Regions from separate parts of the Homo sapiens genome. Here region 1 is linked to region 2. Evidence: fine-mapped expression QTL. A gene starts in region 2. The other region holds a variant in brackets. All regions are shown on one strand. Distances are between the middles of the regions.

Region 1 (5,390 bases), 350 kb before region 2:
ACCATAGGCATGCGTCACTATGGCCAGCTAAGTTTTGTATTTTTTGTCGAGATCGGGTTTTTCCATGTTGTCCAGGCTGGTCTCAAACTCCTGGGCTCAAGAAATCCACATTCCTCAGCCTCTCAAAAGTGCTGGGATTACAGGTGTGAGCTGGCAACACCAATTCTAGTATCAAATTCAAAATTAATTAGGCTGTAGATACAATCGTTGTTATAGGGTTCTGAAATAACAGTAGTTTAAACAAAATGGCTTATTTCTGGCTCACATGGCAGCCCAGGTGAAAGGCATCCAGTGTAGGAAAGGCAGCTGTGTGGACAATTTCCACCTTGTGGATTACGATGATTTCTTCAGCTCTAGTCATCATATCCACATTATATCCACTGGAAATGGGAAACAATTAAGGGGAATGCACATTGCTTTCTCTTAAATGCATGACTTACTTTCATAAGTAAACAGTAACTGATTTTTTAGCAACAATTATATGGCTTATGCTCATGTTGCATCAGCCAGGACTTAATCACATAACCGCACCTCATTGCAAGGAAGGCTGCCAAATAAAGTCTTTAGCTGGACAACCATGATTCCATTTTAACTATGGATGGGAGAAGTTGAAAAGACAGCATTGCCATTCATCTTCTTTACACACATTGAGTGGCTTTCATACTCACTTCATAACGATTCCCTTCTTAGGAACTGAATAGGCAAGGCTGAACTGAAATGATGTTCATACATTCCAGCATAGCAGAGCATTTTTGAAGAACTTCTGTTTAGTTTGGCAAAGAAAATTGGCCTTCTGGAAGGAACAGTGTGTATTTCTTGGTCTTGAAGATTTCGTAATATTTCCGTAGACCACAAAACTAATAGGACAACTATGAACAGAATATTGGAAATGACAAAGGCCAAAAGAGTGTCTCCCAAATAAACATTTATTTTTTACTCTTCCTTTCTAGACTTGCTTTCTAGAAACCGCCCTCTTCTTTTTGATTTCTGTGTGGTCTTTCATTGATAACACAGATAGAAAGAACATAGCATTAAAATCTGGATTCAAATCTTTTTATTGTAGTCAATGTGGCAGTGATAATTTTCACCTAGGCAAATAATATTAGACCTGACAAGGTTTAGGAGTCACAACTATTCAGCAAAGTGTATTCATTTCCTTATATTGTGAATTGAATAGTAGTGTTGGAACACTAAAGCTTATTAATTTCACTATGCATAAAACTAGGTCTGACTGCTAGCCCAGTTGTAAATACAAAGTAGTGGTAAGTGCACAATCTTTGGGTCAGACAGACCGTGGTTCAAATGGGACTCTCTTATGTATGTCTTAGCCATTCACTTATATATAGAAGGGTAAGCATCCTTTTTCTTATCTCTTGAAATTTCGTATTCATGATTTCATCTTCAACTATCAGTTTTTAGTATATATCTCTAGCTCAGATATTTCTCCTAACCCTTTTCCTGCTACATTTCATTTTTTTTTTTTTCTAATCACTCAGAGAGTTAGGGATAATCATTGAACTTACCAAGGCTATTAGGTGACTAAATGAGATCACATGTAAAAATTGCATGACAGTCAAAAGATAACTATTACTACTGTGTTCATGTGGGATGAACAAATTGATGCCTATCATTTATATTATACCTCATAAGACATGGTACAAGGTTTTGTGTGTGTGTGTGTGTGTGTGTGTATTTGTAATATTATAATAAAAATCATTCAAATTAACACAGATACACTAGGACATTTTTCTTTAAAAAGAACCTATAATTGAAAAATACCACTCTGCCTAGCCTAGACTTTTGCTTATTTCCTGTACAATACTTTGCATATAATACTTGTAGAGGTAATGAATGTTTGGAATTTGTTTGACTGAATTTATTAATGTTCAGATTTTAAAATAAATTTACCTTAAGACTTGCTACCATTAATAAGTTAACATGTTAATACATTAATAGTAATAACGTTACTATCTGTATGTCAATCACCATTAAGTAAACAACATACATTTCTCATTTAATCTTCACAACTATACTCAATGGGAGCTCTGATTGTTATGTTACAGATTAATACACTGGTGTTCAGAGAGGTTAGCTCACTTACACACAAGCACATGGCAAGTAACTGAGAGAGGCAGTAGAGCTCAGGCTGGTTGACTCCAAAGTTAATTTTTACCCAAAATACTGTATATAAAATTTAAAATATGCATGAAAATGGCAAAATGGTGGTATAGTAGTAGTATTTACATCAATAACACAATGTTAGAACTTGAAAAACATTATCCTCCAACCAGCCTGAGAGCCAGTATTTATGGTCTTGCTCTCTGAAGCAAAGTATACGTGTAGAAATGTGGAATTCACCTGCAGTAGGAAGTGTCAATCAAAATTGTCAAGTGTATCTTACTGATGCTTTTTGGCTTCTTCTTGCATTTTCAATTTCATTTGGTTCTAAGAGTAGGAGAACAAAAGAGGAAAAGGAGATTCAAAGAACTAGAGTTCTGATACACATAATTCTTTTATTCCCCATGCCAAGCTT[C/T]AAAGGAAAATACTCTCCAGTTCCATCCTTCCTTGACTAACATATGCAGAGAAATGATAAGTCATCAGAATGATCAAATGCACTGGAGAGATTCTGTGAACAATAAAACAGCAGCTACAGCATCTCGGCAGATCAATGCTATTATAAAGGAGATTTTCAGTTTACATTTTTAGCTATCGTTTAGGAAGGTGGTCATAAAAATGGTACTGGACTCTTCGAAAAAAAAAAAACCTTCTCATTAAAATGTAATGGGACTGTTTAAAATATTCAGAAATGGTAGCCTGGATAGGGTCACTGTTTTGGCAGTGTATTATTTTTCTATTGCTGTAGAACAAATTATTAGAAACTTAGCAGCCTAAAACAACATGCATTTAGCATCGCGAAGCTTCTGTAGGTCACACATCTGAGCACGACATAACTGGGTCCTCTGCTCAGTGTCTCACAAGCAGCAATTGAGGTGTTGGCTGGAGCTGCAACCTCATCTGAGGCTCAGAGTCCTCTTCCAGGCTTCTGTAAGGGTTGTTAGGATTCAGTTTCCTACAGTTGAAGGACTGAGGGCCTCAATTTCTAGAGGCCATTCTAGAAAAGCCTCAAAAATGTAAACTACTTAACAGTGAGAGAAAGCAGATTCGTGATTTTCCAGGGAAGGAGGCAGGGGAAGGAGGAATGGATTACCAAGATGCAAGAGAACAATTTCAAGAGAATAGATTTGTTAATTATCTTGAGCATGGTGAGGGCTTCAAAGGTGTATTAAAATTCAACAAGTTATATAGCTTAAATATATGTAGCTTATTGTACGTCAATTATATACCAATAGCTTTTAAAAAACAAATATAATGGAAAGTGACCATTGTGCAGCATATACTCAAGTCTTCTGTGACAAAGAACTGAGACCTCAGCTTGTCACAGTGGAAACTAAATTATGTGGCAGGACAAGTTGGCTAAGACTTAATTCTTCAGTATCTATTTTTGAGCACCTGCTACATGCCTTGTTCTACATCAGGCATTTTGTATGTACTGTGTTATAATATTGTCATGATAACTCTGTGATGCAGTAACTTTGGGTGGCTTAGGTCACTCTTTCCATTAGATAAGTGTTTTAAGACCCTACACACAGGCCAGGCGCGGTGGCTCACGCCTGTAATCCCAGCACTTCGGGAGGCCGAGGCGGGCAGATCACGAGGTCAGGAGATCAAGACCATCCTGGCTAACACAGTGAAACCCCATCTCTACTAAAAATACAAAAAAAAAAAAAAAAAAAAAAAAAAAGCCGGGCGTGGTGGCAGGTGCCTGCAGTCCCAGCTACTCGAAAGGCTGAGACAGGAGAATGGCATGAACCCGGGAGGCGGAGGTTGCAGTGAGCCGAGATCACGCCACTGCACTCCAGCCTGGGCAATGGAGCGAGACTCTGTCTCAAAAAAAGAAAAAAAAAAAGACACTACATACAAAAACATTAACAACTTTTTGCTCCAGTTTGAAATCCAGTGTTCTGAGAGATGCCACACACAGCAAGGGCCTCTGATTTGTAGAATACTACCAGATGTAATTGTCTGGATTTGTAATCCAAATCTTCCTTCATAAAAGATACATAGGCACATAGGTCTGAAATGAGCAATCCTAACATAAGATTTAGAAATGTCCAGTAGCTATATAACTACAATTTTCAGAGTCATGGAATGATATATAGATATATATATGGGTTTCTCTGGTTCTGAAAGTACAGAATTTAGGGAAGAGAAAGGGAGAAATTTTTCATTCCCCTGATATTTAAGTCTATGAACAACAAAATTTCTGTCCAGTAGAAGGTACTTTATGAAATGTATAAGTTAGCCTAACATTTTGCTACCACTATTTAGCCCAATGGGTGGAAAGGTCAGTGTTGTCAACTGGAAGGGAAAACCATCTTGAGATTGGGTTGTGGAAAGACGTCAAGATCTGAGATAACATTGACCCTGGAGCAGTGAATTCCCAAATGTGTAAATAAGATGTATGAATAAGGAGGAATATCAGAATCGGAAGAGCACTTTCAAAGCACTGCTGTAATGCTAAAATGGAATGGTTGGAAGGAGAAGGTAGTGTCATCATTATGTCTTAATCAGGCCTACAAACTTGTCAGAATAAAATCAGATGAGTGAGGTGATCCATGACTCTGAAAACTGTGGTTATATAGCTATTGGACATTTCTAAACCTTGTGTTAGGATTGCTCATTTCAGACCTATGTGCATATATATATATGCACGCACACAGGCACAAAGTAGTATGGTTTGTGGAATTTCTCTGATCGATTATGCACATGAACAGCAGACACAATGGGAAGATTCAGGAAACTGGCTATTGATCACACATACCAGTCTAATCCAACCATGAAGTGGAGCATAACATGAGTGAAGATATGTCAGGGACTTTAGGAAGGCTGGCTCTTTAAAAATTGTTTCATGTTTCACATGTCATACGTCTTAACTTCATTTGGAAGCTCTGCTCACTATTAAATAAAAAAAGTCTCTGAAAAAGTTAATATGTGTAGGTTCAGAACATTTTGAGAGTTGAGGAAAAGCTAGTAATGGGGAAAGAATTATTTGGTTTCACAAATTTGTGAAGAAAGTTTACAGTAATTTTTAGGAATAATTATAATTTGCAATTATAGTTAAATAATTATATAATTACAACTTGGTTATAATTATAATTATAGTTTTATAGTCTTTATAAAATTATAATGTTTTCTGTTGATAAATCCTTGAGATTTAGTACTTACATTGCTTTTTGGTCTTCACTTCCAATGAAATATTTTTATGACATAGGAAAATTGTTAATATAGAAATGTATGCAATTTTAGATTATTTCACTGGATACTTAGGA
Region 2 (5,390 bases):
GTTCAAGCCTGTGATTCCATCACTTTGGGAGCCCAAGACAAGAGGATCACTTGAGTCCAGGAGACCAGCCTGGGCAACATAGTGAGGCCTTGTCTCTACAAGAAAAAAAAAATTTAAAAATTGTCCAGGTGTGGTGGTGCCTGTGGTCCCAGCTACACCAGAGGCTGAGGTGGGAGAATTGCTTGATCCCAGGAAGTTGAGGCTGCACTGAGCTGTGATCATGCCACTGCACAACAGCCTAAGCAATTAAGGAGACGTTTTCTCAAAAACTAAAATTAAAAAAGGATCATAATTATGAAGGGGGAAAATGTGATATAGGTATTATGTATATAAAAACATAATGAGAAGCACCGTTATTTCTCATGAAGGCAAGTGCTTTCTATGAATCCATTGACAAGGAGGGTGCTGGGCAGCTAGTGATGATAATGGTGATAACCAAGAGGAAAATGTCACAGCAGAGCCAATTCCCTTTTTCCAACTCATTTAAGGACCCACCCACTATTGTGTTTAGACACCCCGTACACCAAAAGGCTAAGGTTGCTTCTGTACAACATATTCAAATAAACCATTCCAAGGTAGACTTCATTTTACTTGTAGAAAGCAACATTTTGCAGATGAGTTTTGTTTGGTTTGTCTCCGTCAATCAATTTTAAGCCAAATGTATAAACCATTTTAACAAGAGATGAATCATGAGGCACCTGAGAAGTAATACAAATATACCAGCTACAATGAATTTATTTAACCTTCACAGCAGTAGTTACTGTTACTATCCTGCTTTAACAGAGGAAGAAACTAAAGTGCAAGGGGTTTCGAGGAATTTGTCCAAGATGCATACAGCTAAGAATTGGCAGAGGAGGGATTTGAACTCACCTTGGCTGATGCCAAATCCAAGTACTTGATCATTAGGCTGTACCACCTCCCCAGTAATGTTACACAGGTAAAAATTAATCACGTGCCTAGTGTGTGCTGGGAACTGTGTTAAGCCCTTTATATACATTACCATGTTAACTTTGATAGTTGAGACATTTGGACACAGGTAAGAGGGATAACAAAAGAACCACTAGGTCGACTGTTCTATGTGTCTTTGGCATAATACCCTAGCTTGGATGAAATCTCTGTGTTACTTGAAATTGCAAGATTTTAGCAAAATCAGTTATTTTATGATTTCTTCCTTGCAGAGGTGGAATGGTGCAAACCAGTGAGCAGTATGAATTTGTGCACCATGCTCTGTGCCTGTATGAGAGCAGACTTTCAGCAGAGACTGTCCAGTGAGTCATTGAAGACTTGTCAGACCATCAATCTCTTGGGGTGATTAATCAAATTACCCACCCAAGGCTTCTAGAAGGAGCTTCCTGCAATGGAAGGAAGGAGAAGCTCTGAAGCCCATGTATGGCATGGATTGTGGAAGACTGGGCAACATATTTAAGATTTCCAGCTCCTTGTGTATATGAATGCATTTGTAAGCATCCCCCAAATTATTCTGAAGGTTTTTTGATGATGGAGGTATGATAGGTTTATCACACAGCCTAAGGCAGATTTTGTTTTGTCTGTACTGACTCTATCTGCCACACAGAATGTATGTATGTAATATTCAGTAATAAATGTCATCAGGTGATGACTGGATGAGCTGCTGAAGACATTCGTATTATGTGTTAGATGCTTTAATGTTTGCAAAATCTGTCTTGTGAATGGACTGTCAGCTGTTAAACTGTTCCTGTTTTGAAGTGCTATTACCTTTCTCAGTTACCAGAATCTTGCTGCTAAAGTTGCAAGTGATTGATAATGGATTTTTAACAGAGAAGTCTTTGTTTTTGAAAAACAAAAATCAAAAACAGTAACTATTTTATATGGAAATGTGTCTTGATAATATTACCTATTAAATGTGTATTTATAGTCCCTCCTATCAAACAATTACAGAGCACAATGATTGTCATTGGGTATATATGTATTTACTCTCTATTATTGGGCATAAAGGTGGCTTCTGCTCCAGAACTCTATCCACTGTATTTCCACATCGTGAGTCATTTTACTTTAAAAGGGAAAAACAAATTTGTAGCAACTCTGAAGTATCAAGAGTTTTAACTACTTGTCTCTCTTTTGCTAAGAAGGGATTTTTGAATATGCTATCTACCTGGAATCTCTCTCTCAACAAAAGGTATATGCCTTCAGGAATGATATAATCTGTCCCATTTTCGAGGCTCCTTATAAGGACATTTCCATGTATGTCCTTACATTTCTGAAAGCTTTCAATCTTCAAGAGACAAAAAAAATTAAAATAACTACCCTCAGCAAACACTAGCTGTTCTGCTCATATATGAATTTTTAATGCAGCAATGTTGACTTTGTTTCATACTGCCAATAAACTCTTAATACTAAATACTGAGTAAAGCATATTCTTTTTTTTTTTTCTATTTGGAAAGACGCCATCCTCTGTTTGGGGAAGACCAAAGTAGATAATGTGATGGGTTTAATTTTAGTGTCTGCATCTCCCCAGTGAAGATGACGATCTCAAAATGTAATATTGTCATCACTTGGGAGATAATGATCTAGAAGTGCCATCATTATGTGGTTTTCCTCAATAGACTCGCAGCATATCATTATACAAACAGTACATGTTTATGTCTTTATATCACTTGTCATAGACCCTCATCAATTACATGGCTTATGTTTATTCAGCAGAATCACATCACCTGAAGAGATGTAATGTTTCAGGAACATTCAATTATCTGAGATTTCAATTCCTTTCTTTCTTCTTGAGGTTAAGAAGCAGTCACATGCCAAAGGAAAGGTAGGTGAGGTCTTAACGAGATTTACTCTGCTCTTGAAGGCTGGAATATTTTCTACATTAAAAAAAAGAGGTAATCATAATCCCTTCTTTCTAAGGAAACAGACAAAAGGACACTGGTGTAAAACTTCCCCAAACAATTCAATAGGAGGAAGTGCTCGTCACTGACTTTTCCCCCCACCATGAAGGCACATTTCCTTCCTAGTCTTTGCTTCTCTTATCTGGGAGAATTTTTTTTTTCCCCAAGCGAAGCATGAACAGTTGCTAAGTGGAAAATGGAGGCTGAATTTTACATGGTGATTCTTACCTGCTTGATCTTCAGGAACTCAGGTGAGTGGGTCTGCCTCAGTGTCCTGAGGCATTTCTTCAAGATCTAGCCAAGGAGTCCCTGGTCTTTGAAGTGTCTGAAATAAGGTAGAAGGGGCCAGGTCTCCATGGCAGTTTAGCCAAAGACGATGAAAAGCAGGAATAAAAGGAGCCAGCTATGCCCATACTGTTGAGATTTCTCTCCAAAAGAAAATAAATGCTCTCCTCTCATCCTCCAAATGCTTCAGGCAGCCCCTGAAATGATACATTTAGAGCAGAGCGTAAAGAACCCCGAGGAAAAGTTTGTATTATTATATAACAGTCTGTGGCTTTCCCCAAGCCTTTTTCCGACCCGGTTATAGTTTTATTTTCTTTTGTGTTGAAGAAAGAAAATTGAAGGAATATGATTAAAGGGGGTGAGGAAATGTAGTGTGTTTTATTTGGAAGTTGTCATTTGGGAGGGCTGAACATTTTCATGAGCGAGCTGGGCAATTTAAGTAAAACCTCATTGAAAATGGTTTCTGAGCCAGAGTATCTTGCTCTTTAATACTGATGTTTAGCAATTTGATGTTTAATTTTCTTACACTGGCACATGATGATTTTTAGAAAATCTATTCGTATTTGAGAGAAAACTGTAGATATTGTCATAAAATAGAGAAATGCTCCTCTCCACGACTAAAGGAAATTTAGTTTGTGATAATCAATACTTTCATTGGCTGCAATTAGCTAGGAGGTTGTGCTTGGAGAAGTGGGAAAATTTGTTTTATTTTTTGATAAATGTATGCAATTTTAAAAAATTGTTATTCAAACTATGAAATTTGTATATAAATACTGCAATGTGAATTTAAAGACTGGAAAAGGGGGTGCTTTTTTAAGGTAAGGGAGGAAGCTTATATCGAATATGTCAAATGGTTAAAAAGGGAGCTGAGCATTTCATAACTTCAGCATATCTAACTAATTGGGCTAAAATATACTATATACTTTGGATGGTTTTGTTTCTTTCCAAGCTTCCTTTCATTTTCCAATAAGAGGTGTGCTTTTTTCCCCTAAAGCATGTGAAAATTAAAAAAAAAAAAAAGATGGGGAGTTAAGTGTAACATATTGACATTTTATATCGTCAGCTTTGGAATTTTAAATCACATGTGTTAAATATGAGAATGTTCACTTGAAATGATAGAAATAACAAAATATAAGTAAAACTAGTGATTTTATTTAGCTCATTTGTGGGTGGGTTCTTCCGTTTTCTAATGGGCCTCATAATTTGCTACATAGTGCTTTATGAGCTTTTCATCTTCCAGAAGGGTTTCAGATTGTCCATGTCCAGAAACAACAGTGTCTTTTCAAAAATGAGAAAGTGGTCGTGGGCTCATGCAACAGGACCATCCAGAACCAGCAGTGGATGTGGACTGAGGATGAAAAGCTCCTTCATGTTAAATCTGCACTGTGCTTGGCCATCTCCAACTCTTCCCGCGGCCCCTCCCGCTCAGCCATCTTGGACCGCTGTTCCCAGGCACCCCGATGGACCTGCTATGATCAGGAAGGCTTCCTTGAGGTGGAAAATGCCTCTCTCTTTCTCCAGAAACAAGGCTCCAGAGTAGTGGTCAAGAAGGCCAGGAAATACCTCCATAGCTGGATGAAAATAGATGTCAACAAGGAGGGAAAACTGGTCAATGAAAGCCTCTGTTTACAAAAAGGTGAGCTATTCCTTTCAGAGCAAATCCTGAAAGTCTTTCTACTAAATATCTTGGGGGTTTTGTTTGTTTGTTTGTTTGTTTGTTTTACATTTAAGGGAAGTCCACATGCCCCAACATATTTCCTATGGAAGATTCATAAGCTAATGGAGGTGGATGGTGACGTGCCCAATGATGGAAAACTTCATGACCCTCATTAAAATAAGCCCAACTTTTTCTATTGCTTTTTCTTCCTTCCCTTCTTGTCTTGCTTCTTTTATTAATTCAACAACTATTTCATGAGCCTCTCTTCTCTGCCAGTTAAGCACTGTTAGATGTAGGAATATGGATGTAGGCATATACACAGCCTATATATGTAATGACTAAAGTCAGTAATCGGAAAATTATTAGATTTTATTGACAGACACTTCTATTTGCTAATTATAATAAATTATTAGAACATCAGAATGGTGCTTGATAAGACTGGAAGATAGTTGTGTTTTTGCAAATCTCTTGTATTGCTGTTTAGGGGTAGATATCTTTTGGAGGTAACACACTTTTGAAATGTTAAGAATCAATGGGCAGCCACAGATTTTTCTAATTTATTGACCATTAATGGATATAACCCA

The links. PIP is the estimated chance that this variant, and not a neighbour inherited with it, causes the effect. A credible set is the group of variants that fine-mapping cannot tell apart.
Region 1: its variant is the best candidate, but not a certain one, in a credible set for the expression of PTPRB in visceral fat (GTEx, PIP 0.76).

The regions. Positions count from the first base shown.
Region 1 is chr12:70,989,704-70,995,093 of GRCh38, reverse strand. No RefSeq gene overlaps it. Among named protein-coding and RNA genes, the nearest start is that of PTPRR, 72 kb to the right of the region's middle. The variant C/T (reference allele first, on the strand shown) is at 2,534.
Region 2 is chr12:70,635,066-70,640,455 of GRCh38, reverse strand. PTPRB (protein tyrosine phosphatase receptor type B) reads left to right here and starts at 3,027. Exons shown (of 34, transcript NM_001109754.4): 1 at 3,027-3,115; 2 at 4,390-4,785. The coding sequence starts at 3,061. It overlaps PTPRR (protein tyrosine phosphatase receptor type R), which reads left to right. Exons shown (of 14, transcript NM_002849.4): 14 at 1,179-2,377. The coding sequence ends at 1,272.